4 linked regions of the Homo sapiens genome follow. The protein of the gene in region 4 interacts with the protein of the main gene of each other region in a pairwise test. Each region holds a gene or a part of one and is shown on either strand. Other genes may lie near its edges.

Region 1 (3,500 bases), on a different chromosome or scaffold from region 4:
ACTGAGACCCTAAGTCGTTCTTTGTTGTCTCTCTAGTGGTTTCTGACACCTCAGTGTGAAGCTGTTGTAGACATCCATAAGAAATAGCCTGCTTAGGGATTATGTGAGGGCAAGGTTTGGCTGAAGGAGAATAGAAGGTGTGGAAGGAAGCGGAAGACCAGAAGAGCATCACACTGCCTCAAGTCCCAAATTTGATTCTGCTCCTGATCCTGTGACTCAAATTGTCATTCTCTTTTACTGCTGTGGGGTGTGCTCTGGGCCCAGCTGACAGGACATTCTTTGTACTCCACGTATTTATGCTGGTGGGAGTTGTATGGCTAGTGCTTTGTGCTTTGTCTCAGAAATTGTGTGGACTAAATGTAATATGGGCAGTGAATGGGTTTCTTCTGGAAGATGTTAGGCCTGGAGGGTGGTTTGGGTTTTTACGAGTCTTTTTCTCAGATTACAGATTACGAATGGATGTTATAAAACAGGCAGTGTTGACACCATACAGTTTCTCCTAAGAAATGTACAGAGAGTTCAACCTGAGGAAGCTAATTGAAAATAAACTTTTAAAAAGAAATGTAGAAAGAGGAAATTTAAAAAGTATCTTATGAATGGGAAAGATGTAGCCATTTGAGCTTCAAAGAACTTTTGAGGGAATTCTCAAAGGACAGTACCCGTCTTTAGTAGATAAATGCTTGATATCTATTTTTCTTCTTTTACTTTTTAAAGAATTACTAAAATAATACATGGATTTATAGAAAAATCAAACCACTTAAAAATTGATCAGGTGGCTGGGCAAGGTGGCTCATGCCTGTAATCACAGCGCTTTGGGAGGCCTAGGCGGGTGGATCACCTGAAGTCAGGAGTTCGAGACCAGCCTGGCTAACACGGCGAAACCCCATCTCTATTAAAAATACAAAAATTAGCTGGCCATGGTGGCTTGAGCGTGTAGTCCCAGCTACTCGGAAGGCTGAGGCAGGAGAATCACTTGAACCTGGGAGGCGGAGGTTGCAGTGAGCCAAGATCACACCACTGAACTCCTGCCTGGGTGACAGAGTGAGACTCGGTCTCAAAAAAAAAAAAAAAAAAAAGTATCAGGTAAAAAAATGAAAGCTCCCCGCTTAATCTCTGCTCCCACTACCCAGAATAACTGCTGTTAATAGCTTAATGTAGATCCTTCTAAGTCTTCTAAGACTAAACTGTGTACTTTTTGTGTTGTAATTAACAGGAGGGTTTTTGTTTTGTTTTGTTTTTTCTTTTTTTGAGATGGAGTCTTGCTCTGTCATCCAGGCTGGAGTACAGTGGCACAATCTTGGCTCACTGCAACCTCCACCTCCTGGGTTCAAGTGATTCTCCTGCCTCAGCCTCCTGAGTAGCTGGGATTACAGGCGCCTGCCACCACACCCAGCTAATTTTTGTATTTTTAGTAGAGATGGGTTTCACCATGTTGGCCAGGCTGGTGTCGAACTCCTGACCTCAGGCGATCCACCTGCCTTGGCCTCCCAAAGTGCTGGGATTACAGGCGTGAGCCACCGTGCCTGGCCTCAGGATGGTGTTATATATACATATTCTGCATTTTTCCATCTCATATATTCATCTCTGCCTCATTTCTTTTAAATAGCAGTGTAGTCCAGGGCTGACTTACCGTCATGCATTTCGTTGTCTCTCTATGTTATTAAAAATGCTACAGGATTGAAATTCCTCATGTGCCAGTCATTTTGAAGAATGGCTGCCTAGACTTGGAATTTCTGGTGGATACCACCACATCACTGTCCAAAATGGCTATCCCAGTTCCCACAACAGTCTGAGAAAGTGCCATTTTCCCATATCGTCCCAGAATTGGATATACATCTTTTAAATTGGTGCCGCTTGGATTATTACTGAGGCTAAACCTCAATAATCATTGTCATAGCTCTTAATGTATTAAAGATGTTAACTCTTTGTCATGCAGATATTTTCCTGTTTTGTCTTACGTCTTGATTCTTGTCTTTCTGATATATAAAATTTATGTTATGATTTATTCTTTTGCTTTCATACTTAGGAAATCCTTTTTTACTCTTTTTTTTTTTTTTTTTTTTTTTTTTGAGACGGAGTCTCGCTCTGTCGCCCAGGTTGGAGTGCAATGGCGTGATCTTGGCTCACTGCAAGCTCCATCTCCCGGGTTCATTCCATTCTCCTGCCTCAGCCTCCCGAGTAGCTGGGACTACAGGCGCCCGCCACCACGCCTGGCTAATTTTTTTGTATTTGTGAGACAGGGTTTCACCATGTTAGCCAGGCTGGTCTCGATCTCCTGACCTTGTGATCCGCCCGTCTCTGCCTCCCAAAGTGCTGGGATTACAGGCGTGAGCCACCGCGCCCCGCCAGGAAATCCTTTCCTACTCTTAACAACAGATCAATAGTCATCTATATTTTCTTCCTAAAAAACCTGATGATGTATTATATTCATACATACGTATTTAATACATACAAAAGGGCCAGATGCGGTGGCTCATGCCTGTAATCCCAGCACTTTGGGAGGCTGAGGCGGGTGGATCACCTGAGGTCAAGAGTTCAAGACCAGCCTGGCCAAGATGGTGAAATCCCGTCTCTACTAAAAATACAAAAATTAGCCAGGCGTGGTGGCGGGCACCTGTAATCTCAACTACTGGGGTGACTGAGGCAGGAGAATCGCTTGAACCCAGGAGGCAGAAGTTTCGGTGAGCCAAGATCACGCCACTGCACTCCTGCCTGGGCGATAGAGTGAGGCTCTGTCTCAAAAATAAAAAATAAAAATAATAATTTTATAGTTAAGTTGCCCTGTGTTTTTCCTGTGATTAAAAAAAAAAATACCTGTTTTGTATTTAACTTTGGGGTGGGATAAGGTATAGCCCACTTAGTCAGTTGTGTCTAAGCCACTTGATGAACCAGTCAATCCAGTCTTCACCTTTAACAAATGCTGATTTCTTCAAGTGAGCAAAATATCTCTTAAACTTTTTCCTATTTTCTCTATAAAGTTGCTTTTTTCTGAATTTTTTCTTTATGAGGCTTGATGGGCAGCCCTATCAGCAGACAATCATTCATTCACCCAACAAATATTTGAGTATCTGCTTCAAGCCAGGGGCAGTGCTAAGCCCTGGAAGTGGTATCTTCTCCTTATCCGGGAGTGGGGCTACAGTGTTCATTCCAGAAGACTCAAGAAAATAGCAGATCATCACAAAAGTAGGTTTTACATAAATGAGGAGGAATCCACAGGGTTGTGTATATGTGTGTGTATTTTAAATTCTGACATAAGTTGGAGCTTTAGGGTAGACTGTGACATAAGAGTAGTTTGTTTTCCAACTCATGTAATTGCCGGCTGATTTTTGTCTTGAATTATGATAATGGTAACTTCTGTTGAAACAATTCTGTATTCATCTTAGCTTGGTTGGGATGCAATAAAAGTTTTGTACTGGTAAAAATGATAATTTTCTTCCATGATGATTTTGAAGCTTTTCTGTAACACCTGATAAAAATAGAGGGGCCAGGCATGGTGGCTC
Region 2 (4,230 bases), on a different chromosome or scaffold from region 4:
CCGCTCCTCGGCCAGGGTCACCAGCGAGAGGCGTGATCCCCACCTTCAGCAGCCCGGGGAATGAGCTAAGAGCCCGGCTCCTCACGGGATCAGACCCAAGCCCCGCCCCTCCCGAGCCCCGCCTTGTGTCGCCCGGCGCGGGGCCTCGCCCCTCACCTGTAAGTCAGCACGAAGGTCACCGCGCTCTCGCTGAACCGCACCAAGTAGCACCCCTGAGGCTTGGGCTCCAGCAGCCTCTCTGCCTCCCTGTGGGTGACGGAGAGAGGGGGCCGAACCCTGCTCTGACACTTCCAGCCTCGCCTCTGTCTCCCCGGCTCTCACGAGGAACCCCTACCCCCAAGCAAGCATGCTGGAGCGGCTAGAGAAAGGCTAGGGCGGAGATGGGGAGAGAGAGCACGTGGGCGCTGCTCTCCCGCTGCAGGGATTAGGCGTGGACAGGGGCCAGGGGTCCCATTCAGGAGACCCCCGCATCCTCCCCTGGCCTCATCCTGAAAGGGCAGCCTGCAGGGGCTGCTACTGCAGCTACAGGGATGGGAAAGTAGTTGGACTTCCAGATTTCAGAAGTCAAAGCTGAACTGAGGAGGTGAACAAAGAGTTAGGGAGAAATGAGGCTGAGAAATGGAGGAGGGAGATTCTGCAAGGGTGGAAGAAGAGAGGGCTGGGAGATAAAGATGGAGTAAGCCTGGAGGGAGAGAGAGGTGGAAAATACCAGCATTCGAGGCCTTAGGGACAGGAGGATAATGGGGCCTAGAGAGGGGAAGCTGAGGTACACAGAGGGCTGGACTGGAGCCTCTCCAATGATCTCCCCTGGAGAGATGCCTCAGTGAAAGGCTAGGAAAACTCTGGGAGTGGGAGCCTGGAGTGGGCGCCTCCATCTACTCCAGACTGGTAGAAGTGGGAGCCTTCATCTATTCCTGGCAGGTGGCAGGACCCAGACCCAGGACTTGCCCTGCCCCTGTCTGGGCCAATTTCCTCCTCCATGACTCACCTCCGGGTGATGAAGCCATGGAACCAGGCAGGGGCTGCCCCGTGCTGCAGGAGCCAGTGGGCCTGGGTCTTCTGGAACCAAGCCCGGGTCTCGGCCTGCAGGAACAGGCTTCCTTCTCCAGGCACCTCCTCTGCCCTCTCAGCATTCCCTGTGTTGGAGGCAGCCTCCGGGGCCTGGGGAGATGCCTGGATCAGGGAAGAGTTCAAGGAGGGGGAAGCAGCATGATGAGTGGGCCTTCTCCTGACTTTGATCCACCTGCCACCTTCTTTTCCTCATACCCAGCCTCTCCTGTCTATTTTAGGGTACAATTGCCCAGAAAGTCCTTCCTAAAGTCTAACTTAAATCCCTTCTTCAGCTCCAGCTGTTCTGGCTTCCAGAGACTCTCCTTCCTTTGCCCTCTGGGTCCTGAGGGCTTTTAATCCAGCAGCAGTGAGCTGTCACACTGTGCTCTAGGAGGGGCGGGAAAGGCAGCACAGCCTTCCAGATGGACAGAGTCATTCCCTGGCCTGGAGGATGAAGAAACATGATGCAGGAAGTCACCCTAGAGGCCAGAATGAGGGAGGGCTTACTTCATAATATGAGGGACTGACCTAGTTCGCAGGGAAAATTATTGACTGGGCAGGAGAGAAGGACTGAGACGGGAATGTGGAATGCACTGGGCAAATGGTCACTGACACAGAGTGCAGATGCCTGCTTCTGGGACTCAATGCACTGCACCCTGGTCATCTGCGGACTCAGCCTGAGCTTCCAGAGGGCCTAGGAGCAGTAAGGGAGTGAGTGGGCAACTCGGCGCATGAAGGAGGTACTCCTCATTTTCGTTCTCTCTCTCTGTGCCCCAGCCCGTTGGCAGACCCGGATCATTCCTGCCTTCTCTTGGAGTGGCCTTTGTCCATCTGCAAGTCCTTCCCCATGGGAGGGTGGGAGAGATGAGGGAGCTGCACCACGCTGCCGCCCCAGGTTTCCACTCACCGCAGTGTAGCCCAGGTTCTGGCAGCTCCTGCGGGTCATGTCTGTGATCTGGAAGGTGCTGAAGGTTGGGATGGGGGCTTCGTGACTCCCTGTGAGCACAAAGAGGGCTGCCGGGGTTTCTCAGAGAGGAACTATGTCTGTCTCTGCCTCCCACCCCTCCTCCCAGGCTCAGGGGATCTGGAGGGCTGGGACAGTCTTAACGACAGGAAAAACGCAGAAGGGCAGCAGGGGAGTTTCTCAGGCATGAGGTTAAGTAGCCAAGGCGGCATGGGGGGCTAATGCTGCCAGAGGAGGTTGTGAGGGACACCAGGTGCCTAGAAGGAGAGGCTGGGAGTCAGGCTGGCCTTCGGATGGTCAGGGAGGCAGATCACTTCAGGGCAGGCCCTTCTTCTGGTCCAGGATCTTCTGCCTCCTTCTCCCTTCATCCTCCTGCTCCCTCCTCTCTCCTCTCTGAGAAGCCCTCAACAAACCCTGTCACCTTTATCCTCAGGGATGAGTGGGCATGGAGCCCCAGGCAGGGTTGTGGTCACCCTGCCAATCAGCTTTGCCAGCTCTGGCTTAGGGTGGGGCCCCTCATCCCTGAAGTGGGAGCTCAAGCCCAGGAGGGAGGGCAGGGGGATGGGGGTCTTTGTGCCCCCTCCCACCCATATCCTTCAACTTCACACTTACCTTGGGGACATATCTGGGCCAGGGGGAACTCCATGAGGGCAGCCTCACAAGGGATCCCAGAGCAGGGTGTGTGTATGTGTTCCGGAAAGGTGTGCACACTCAGCAACTCATCATCTCTCCTCTCACCCTGGCCCCGGGGGCAGGAAATGTCGCCTTACCCACAGCCTTAGTTCTGGCGAGGACTCACGTCATGGAAAGCCTTAAGACGATTGTCCCACCCCCGGAAGCCACGCAGCTGTAGATAGCGGTGGTATAGCGGTGGGGGGTATCTGTGTCACTCTGTGTTTAGGTGTTAGGAAGCCCTTACTGCTGCCTGACCTTCATCCCTCCAGATTCTTTCTCTGCCCCCTCACCCCAAACTAGAACTTCCCTTTCTCTCTCTCTCTCTCTCTCTCTCTCTCATCTCTCTTGGCTTCTATTTCTTTCTCTCTGGAAAATCTCCCACTCTGCCTCTTGGCCTGTTCTGAGCAGTGGGAATGGGGATGTCAACCTCAAGGATAAGCCACACAAGGTGCTTATGGATCATGCTTTGAGGAGACATGAGGAAGGGAGGGGGCAGGGCTGCAACAGGAAGGATGTGGGTCAGACTTCTGGAAGGACTTTTTGAGGACATGTGAAATCTATGAGTCTGGGCATGGTGGCTCATGCTTGTAATCCCAGTACTTTGGGAGGCTCAGGCGAGAGAATCGCTTGAGCCCAGGAGTTCATGATCAGCCCTGGGTAACATAGTGAGAGCCCATCACTATTTTTAAAATAATAATAATAATAGTAATAATAATAAAGAAATCTATAAGACAAGGGGTTAGAGAGGAGGGGGCCTGGCTTCCATCATTCAGCAGATAATGGAGCTGAGTTAGGGCAAAACCAGGCAATATTGGAGGAAGGAAAGAGAATTCCTCCAGCTAAGCAGGTCATCATTAGTATCAACACTATCAGCAGTTGTCATTAATAACATCAGTGTTGACATCTTTTTTTTTTTTTTTTTTGAGACAGAGTCTAGCTCTGTCACCCAGGCTGGACTGCAGTGGCACAATCTCAGCTCACTGCAACTTCCGCCTCCCAGGTTCAAGGGATTCTTGTGCCTCAGCCTCCCGAGTAGCTGGGATTACAGGCTTGTACCACCATGCCTGGCTAATTTTTGTATTTTTAGTAGAGACAGGGTTTCACCGTGTTGGCCAGGCTGGTCTTGAACTCCTGGCGTCAAGTGATCCACCCACCTCGGCCTCCCAAAGTGTTGGGATTACAGGCGTGAGCCACTGCACTGGCCAGTGTTAATGTCTTAAACTTTCAATGTGCTTAGACTTCCCACCATACCAAAGGACCAATCCCATTTCTCTCTGAATTTATCTTCACAAACTAAGAAGGGGACAGGAACATTATCCCCATTTACCAGAAGCTCAGAGGAGTGCCTTGGCCAGGGTCTTTCAGTGTCTGAGAAGTTGGTGTGAGTGCTGGGACTAGAAGGTAGACTTCCTTTCACTAATTTCACTGTGATTTAGGCCAAAGGTTCATGACTATGTGCTATGCACTGTTCTTGGTACTGAGAACCCAGAGAGGAAAAAAAAAACTTTGTTTCAAGATGTCAGATGGGGGAGATGGACTTG
Region 3 (3,500 bases), on a different chromosome or scaffold from region 4:
ATGACATTATCGGGGTGAAATTAAAATCTGTTATTTGTAATATGAGGTACTATAACATTGTATTTTAACAATAAGCAGGAACTAAGTACTCAGTTAAGCATTTTCAACAACATCTGATAATAATAGGGATGTTACTTATCAGTAATCATGAATAGTTTTTCGCTGAGATTTTCTTGACAGTGTTCTGGATTTGAGCCAAATACTTCAAAATTATTCGTGTCCGAATCTCTTTTTTTACTTACTACCTCTTATTTAAAAAGCAGACAAAAGTCTACTTAGGTTTCAATAATTGCAAGCATCCACCAATGCTGTATTATATAAAGCTTGTATTTGGACATAGCAATACTAGAATGTCTTGTCAGCATATGAAAACAAGAACTTTTCACTTTACTTACCCAATATCTTGGATATATAGGATAATGACAGAGACTGGGATAGCAATAACCATAATATAGTTATAGTTATTCTAAATTAACCAAAGCTGTCTAATTCTTTTTTATTGGTATTTTAATAATAAATATCTCTGCTCTTTGAAAGAGGTACTAATTGTGCGTCTCTGTAATGAAAAACCGAGAGGAATTAAACTGGTTCAATAGTAACTGATTCCTGAGTACCACTGCCAGGTCTTACCCTGGCCAAAATTAGTAAAAGACTGATGTCTATATGTGGTTCAAAACTGCTTTTGTATTATCGTTGGTGAATGACCACTGAAAATATTAAAGCAGTGGTAAGATAATACAGTTGACTCTTGAACACCATGGGCGTTAGGGACATTGATTGCTCATGCAGTTGAAGATCTGTGTGTAACTTTTGACTCCTCCAAAACTTTACTCATAGCCTGCAGTTGTCTGAAGGCCTTAACAAATAACATAGTCAGCACATATTTTGCATGTTGTCTGTATTATATACTGACTGTATTCTTACCATAATCTAGAGAAAAGAAAATGTTATTAAAATCATAATGAAAATATATTTACTCTTCATTAAGTGGATCATAGTACAAGTCTTATCATTTTCATGTTGTATAGGCTGAGGAAGAGGAGGGGTTGGCCTTGCTGTCTCAGAGGTGGCAGAGGCTGAAGAAAATCCATGTACAAGTGAACCCATGCAGTTCAAACCTGTGTTGTTCAGGGTCAGCTGTAGTCTCTTAATCTTGACATTACTAAATATTTTTGTGCTGAGATTGTTCTTATTTTCAGTGAATTTAAAGTACTGAAAAATTCTAAACTTGTTTTCAGGTTACTAATAGGTAGAAATTTTTTAGTATGGATTAGTTTATAACTCATTTTAAATCCAACTTTAATTCTTCATATTTAGAGCTAGGCTACAGTTCCAATGCGGTTGGTAGATGACTCTAGACAATAACATCACTTTTGGTTTTTTATACTAAAAGTAGGGACAGTGCTGGATATATCTCAGCAATAGTAAAAAGCACTAAACTTTTATAAAGTAATTTGTCTATGTAAAGTACTTTAAGCCATGAAAGTTTACAGAAAGGCCAAGTTTTCTAGAAAGCAAATAAGTTAAAATGGTACACATACGTATAGTGTTGGAATGACTGACGAACCATACTTTTTAAATTTTAGTGAAGATGTAATTATTAGATGGCATTTTAAGCATGAGATATCAGGAAAATCATTTTTTGTTTAGTAAGTGAAAAACACTAGTGTAAATTGTGGCTGTCAGGTGAGTGGATAGGGCTAGCTCACTGCCTCTTGAGTGTTCTGAGGCATGTTTACAGATGAAAGGGGGGGTTACATTTTTAGTAGATTAAACAAAATTATAGGCTTTATTGGAGGATTTTTGTAGCCTTTGTAGTATTTTAAGGTACACTGTGTGAATGGCGAGGAAGGGAGGTTTACAGCCAGACATACTGGATCACTGGGACTCCCGTTTTTCTATACAATGCCATGGGATTGTAATTTTATGGAACAAACTTTAGGAAACTCTAGACCAGATTATTTTTAAAATTACTTCCATATATAAAATTCTATAATCCTGTGAAGAACTCAGGAAGTACTTACGATTAATTCTCCCATTTATTGTTCCGGAAACTTCAGTTTTTATAATCTTCCTAAATTGATCCTTTATGTTGATAAACAGTGTCGATATTAAGGAGCTCATTAATTTTGGAAGATCCATATCTATCCAAACTGGTAAGAGGCTTTAAGATAACAAATGCTCAGCTTTCAGGAGACGTCTAAAATGAAACTTTTAAATCATATTCCATTCTGATATTTGATCAAGAGAAAAGTTTTAGGCAGAAAAGAAGAGGTAGCTGAGCTTAAACCGTAAGAAGAAACCTAGTAAAGGTGAAGAAAGTTTCTCCAAAATAATTTCATTGACATTTAAAGAGCAGCAGTGGTGCCTATCAATAGGCAACATAAAAAATTACAGGCCGGGCACAGTGGCTCACCTGTAATCCCAGCACTTTGGGAGGTTGAGGCGGACAGATTGTTTGAGCCCACAAATTCAAGACCAGCCAGGGCAACATGGTGAGGTCTTGTCTCTACGAAAAATACAAAAATTAGCCAGGCATGGTGACGCACACCTGTAGTCCCAGCTACGTGGGAGGCTGAGGTGACAGAAGCACCTGAGCCTGGGAGGTTAAGACTGCAGTGAGCCATTATTGCATCACTGCATCCCAGCCTGGGTGACAAAGTGGGACCCTGTCTCAAAAATAATAAATAAATTTAAAAATTGCAAAATATAATACTGTTGTCTTTTTTTTAAAGTTAAGTATCATTTTGCTGCTTACTCTACAAGTTTCAGGCTCTTACAGTATACAATGACTGCTTTTTTATCTGTTTTTGTAGTGAACAAGACCTATAATCCAAAGATATTAACTAAGTTCTGACTTTGTAGATAATTGTTCATTACTTAGTAACTTGTATTATATGCTGTGACATCTTGAAAGATCTTATATTATGTGGTGTCACTTTCCTGGCTCCAATAAAAAATGATTCCCTAGGGCTCTAAAGAACAGACTTAAAGGATTGATGACACAATGTGAAGGGCAAAGCCAGAGGGGGTTGAAAAGATATAAACTGAACAAGTTCTTTCTTTAGGTAAATCTGTGGCAGGAACAGGTAAATTAGCAAAGCCAGGGAATAGTGGTGGAGGGGTGACATACAGTAAGTCTGAGCTGGGCTCTAGAAACAGAGGTCAGACAGGGCAGAGGTGAGCAATTACCTGGGAAAGCGTGTGTGGGGTTGACAGACAGGTTCTTCTCCCTCTATGCTGCCTGTCTTCATAAATTGCTCCATCAGGACTTGTTCTTGTTTGCTTCCTTTTGTGGCTGCTATGGCCATCCTGGTTTGGAAACTTTTTTCAGAAAATTACTACTACTAATATAGTCTTTATAATACATAAATACAAACTGATTTTGACTTCGCTGCTTCTAAGGGACATTGTCCCAAATCATATTTCCTCAAGGAATCCAGTTTCTATTTCCAAATACAATGTATAAGTGTGTGTATTCCCTCTATTCACTGTGACTG
Region 4 (3,500 bases):
TCAAGAGCACAGCTGATACCAGACCAGCTAGTCTGATTCCAGGTATAGGGTTCTTTAAACTCTAATACCCATAGGGCTTGAGACCAATTAATTCTCTAACATCTTCAATATCTTCCAAGCCATAGAAGTTAACTCATCATCGTTTTTAGTTTACTAGTTTAGGTTTAGTTTAGTTTATTCAGAATTAAAGAAATCACTCAAACTGGTGTTTCAAAATGCCAAATAAGAAAGCAAAAGTTATCGATTTTGTACATAAAACCTAAGTCTAAGCTGGGCATTTTCTTAAATCATGAGTCATAGATTCCCTATTATAAATAATAAGATTACAGTATCTATAGTATATAGCACGCACATTTATTTCTAACTTTTTTCATATCCATATCTTACTTAAATTTGACACTTTTCTGTAAACTTAAAGGAGAAATGATGGTTCTCACATGAAAGATGGGAAGACACAGGTAAAGGGGCCACTGGAGGAAGTTGCAGGAATACATATGGAAAGCAGGCCCAAGCTGCAAACACCACCGTTTTCCAAAGGTTTAAGTAGATTGACTATGTTCAACTATCAAGTATAAGGAAGCCCTCTTAGTAGGATCATGAACAATAATTGGTCAGTTAATAGAAACTCACCTTAAAGCAGGTGACCACAACAACCATACATACTTTAAACATTCTAATTTAAAATGGATACATGAACACATCTAGAATGCAACATCTATGGCTTGCAGTTTATTTATGTATTTTTTACTCACCACTATATAAATAAGGACACAGTTTCACTTTCTTTGAGTTACAGCATGGATTTAAAGGCATGTATGAAACAAGGTGAGTGCATAATCCTTCCATATTTTTACAGGTTTTTTTGCTTTCAGTTGTTGTAGCCACGTCTAATTCAATATCTATTTCTGTTCTGTGCTTATCTTTATCAAGTCTTTTGCATTCTACTTTGCCTTAACAGCAACAATGATTCTCTTTTCACACTCATAATTCATTAGCTTGTGCAATCTGGAATTATTTAACTCCAATAATATGCACAACGTAATAAAAAGTTTCAGAAATAAGCATAACTGCTGTTTGGTAAGCACACACCTCTGCTGGTAGGAACACTGGCATTCTAGAGTGTAGCTGGCCAGCTGCAAACACAGAGCATGCCAATGGACATAGTCAGATGGAAATGAAAGAGAAAATGACAAGACTGTTTAATCCAGTGTGTGTTTTTAAAGAGAATTTCTACTTATATTCAGTTAGAGTTTAACAGGCATCTGTTAAATTGAATCTCTTCATTCTGCACATTCTTAGGAACATGAATACTTACTACACAACCAGAAGGAAGATAAAGGATGGCTGTGCAACCCGGAGGAGAGCTGCTCACATGGAGATAAGGGATCCTTAATGATGCTCCAGCTTCTCAGAGTGGACAGACTACACTGGCTTAAAATTCTATGGGCTGACTGGGAAGATTCCTCCAGATACCCTAAAACTTAATGTAGTGCTGACCAGCTTTTCTAGATTATGTGACTACATCACTGGAGGTCTATCTTTAAAGCTTAATAAATCATTTGTTTATGCTAATTATGTGTAGAAGCTTAACCATTAGTGATCAAGCCACACTAGACCAGTTCGCATTTGTTAGGAGAAGCGTAACTGACTTGCCCACTGAGATGTGGCACATCAACAACATAGCTGTTGTTAACTAGATCTCAATGATTTGACTCCCAGTCCAGGGTTCTTTAAACTATGATAAGCTCAATATAATTCTCCAACATCTTCTAAACCACTGAAACTATCATAAATTTCAGAATATCTTTCCATTTAATAATAAAAAAGGAAAAGTATAGCTACTTCAGGTATTGGTTCAAATTTTAATTGCACCATTTTGGTTTTCCTTCTAAGAGCACAACAGATCACTGGCCTAATGAACAATTAGAGGTAAGAACTATGTTCAGCTGAACTGAGGGAGTGTTTCATGTGTAGATTATTAACACAGACAATAATATGCCTGTCAGTGCCATTTTTGTTTAATATGCCAGTAAATACTAAGGGAATTTTATAACCATATATGCAATATTTCAAAGCACACAAAATCCCTATGAAAGTTTTAGTGATGCATAGTTATTTCCAGACGTGTTGCCACTAGGCTAGAAGATCAAGCCATGCCTTGAATTTATAATACGAAAAAGGCCACAGAAGCTGTATGTAAAACATACTTTCATGAAAACCTATTAAAACTATATTTTAGTTTTGTTAAATACATCTCCATGTTCTTGGATTATGGCAGTGATTGTAACCTAGAAAATGACGTCTGAAACCATGCTACACTTCTAAGTCACTTTTCTGACCCAATCATTTTTATTCAATATGTTAAACTTAGTTTATCCATAGATCTATTAGCAGATGAGTAATATTTAACTTTTAATTCCTATACAGAATTCCTCTATTTTGTTCATTTTGTTATATGTACTGGCAGAACAATCAAAATAGAAGACTACATGTTGTTATACAAAGTTTTGTTAAAATCAAAAGCACACACAATGATCAAAATAAACGTCACAATTCTTAATTCATTATGCTTATAAATGCCAACTTTACTATAGCACAAAACTATATCTATATCATACACACCCACTATATTTTCTACATTCATCTTTAGCCTTCCCTCAGGCCAATGTTCAAACAACCTATCTGCCTGAACTACATTTCTCTGGTTCCTTTGAAATGTTTTGCACATCAAATGCATTTATCTGACTTCTGAGACACCTACTACCATTTTTATTTTCATCATTAATATATTGTCTTTCTCGTTGGTATCCATCCTTTTGTTCCCAGTTTTTCTTAATTTACTTGTGTTGTCTCTCTCATTGACTATAACTAAAACCGCTAGAAAAAACACAAAAAGCAAGTACCTGAGAACTCTGAAAAACAAGTAATAGATTAGGACATGAAGTCAAAACAATAGGAATGGCCAGTATAAAGGAATGACCAGTAGAGGCAATGAATGGATTAAATGGAAAAGCACCATCTAGTAGTAACACCTGTGCTGGCGCTGAGGTGCCACTATTAACTAGCTGTGTGACCCTGGGCAAGTCATCTAAATATTCTGACTTTCAGTTACCTTTCCATAAAATGAGAATAATGCCTCATCTACAAAATGGGCATAATGACACTTCCCTGCATCAAAAGGCTGTTGATGATGTTCAAGTTGGAACACATTTGCAAAAGCATTTCATAAAGTGAAACACCACACAAATCCCAGGCACCACAGAATCTAGTGATCTCCAAATGTTTTGATTACACACTAAATTAGTAAAGTCTCTGACCACAGAATCCAATATATATTTTACATATAAATTACATGTATACTATTAACCAAACATTATTTGTACTATAAAATAAAATAAGCCAATATAAAATAAGATATATACTTTAAATAATTTCATTTTTAAAGGTATAAGACTCCTTTAAATATTAATATTTTAACAAGAACAAGGTGATTGACTAGG

What was found. The genes of interacting proteins can lie anywhere in the genome.
Region 1: the proteins of ASB3 (region 4) and MECP2 interact in binary tests that used the Homo sapiens proteins (3 or more experiments, as listed by UniProt).
Region 2: the proteins of ASB3 (region 4) and SH2D2A interact in binary tests that used the Homo sapiens proteins (3 or more experiments, as listed by UniProt).
Region 3: the proteins of ASB3 (region 4) and NDUFV2 interact in binary tests that used the Homo sapiens proteins (3 or more experiments, as listed by UniProt).

The regions. Positions count from the first base shown.
Region 1 is NC_000023.11:154,087,718-154,091,217, reverse strand, and holds part of MECP2 (methyl-CpG-binding protein 2), read left to right. Parts: intron 1-3,500. UniProt on the Homo sapiens protein: Chromosomal protein that binds to methylated DNA. It can bind specifically to a single methyl-CpG pair. It is not influenced by sequences flanking the methyl-CpGs.
Region 2 is NC_000001.11:156,814,049-156,818,278, forward strand, and holds the start of SH2D2A (SH2 domain-containing protein 2A), read right to left. Parts: upstream 2,801-4,230; 5' UTR 2,661-2,800; coding exon 2,627-2,660; intron 2,410-2,626; exon of another isoform or gene 2,065-2,409; coding exon of another isoform or gene 2,047-2,064; coding exon 1,958-2,046; intron 1,791-1,957; coding exon of another isoform or gene 1,782-1,790; exon of another isoform or gene 1,702-1,781; intron 1,174-1,701; coding exon 989-1,173; intron 277-988; coding exon of another isoform or gene 247-276; coding exon 157-246; intron 1-156. UniProt on the Homo sapiens protein: Could be a T-cell-specific adapter protein involved in the control of T-cell activation. May play a role in the CD4-p56-LCK-dependent signal transduction pathway. Could also play an important role in normal and pathological angiogenesis.
Region 3 is NC_000018.10:9,130,199-9,133,698, forward strand, and holds part of NDUFV2 (NADH dehydrogenase [ubiquinone] flavoprotein 2, mitochondrial precursor), read left to right. Parts: intron 1-2,024; exon of another isoform or gene 2,025-2,200; intron 2,201-3,192; exon of another isoform or gene 3,193-3,312; intron 3,313-3,500.
Region 4 is NC_000002.12:53,671,954-53,675,453, forward strand, and holds part of ASB3 (ankyrin repeat and SOCS box protein 3), read right to left. Parts: intron 1-3,500. UniProt on the Homo sapiens protein: Probable substrate-recognition component of a SCF-like ECS (Elongin-Cullin-SOCS-box protein) E3 ubiquitin-protein ligase complex which mediates the ubiquitination and subsequent proteasomal degradation of target proteins. Recognizes TNFRSF1B.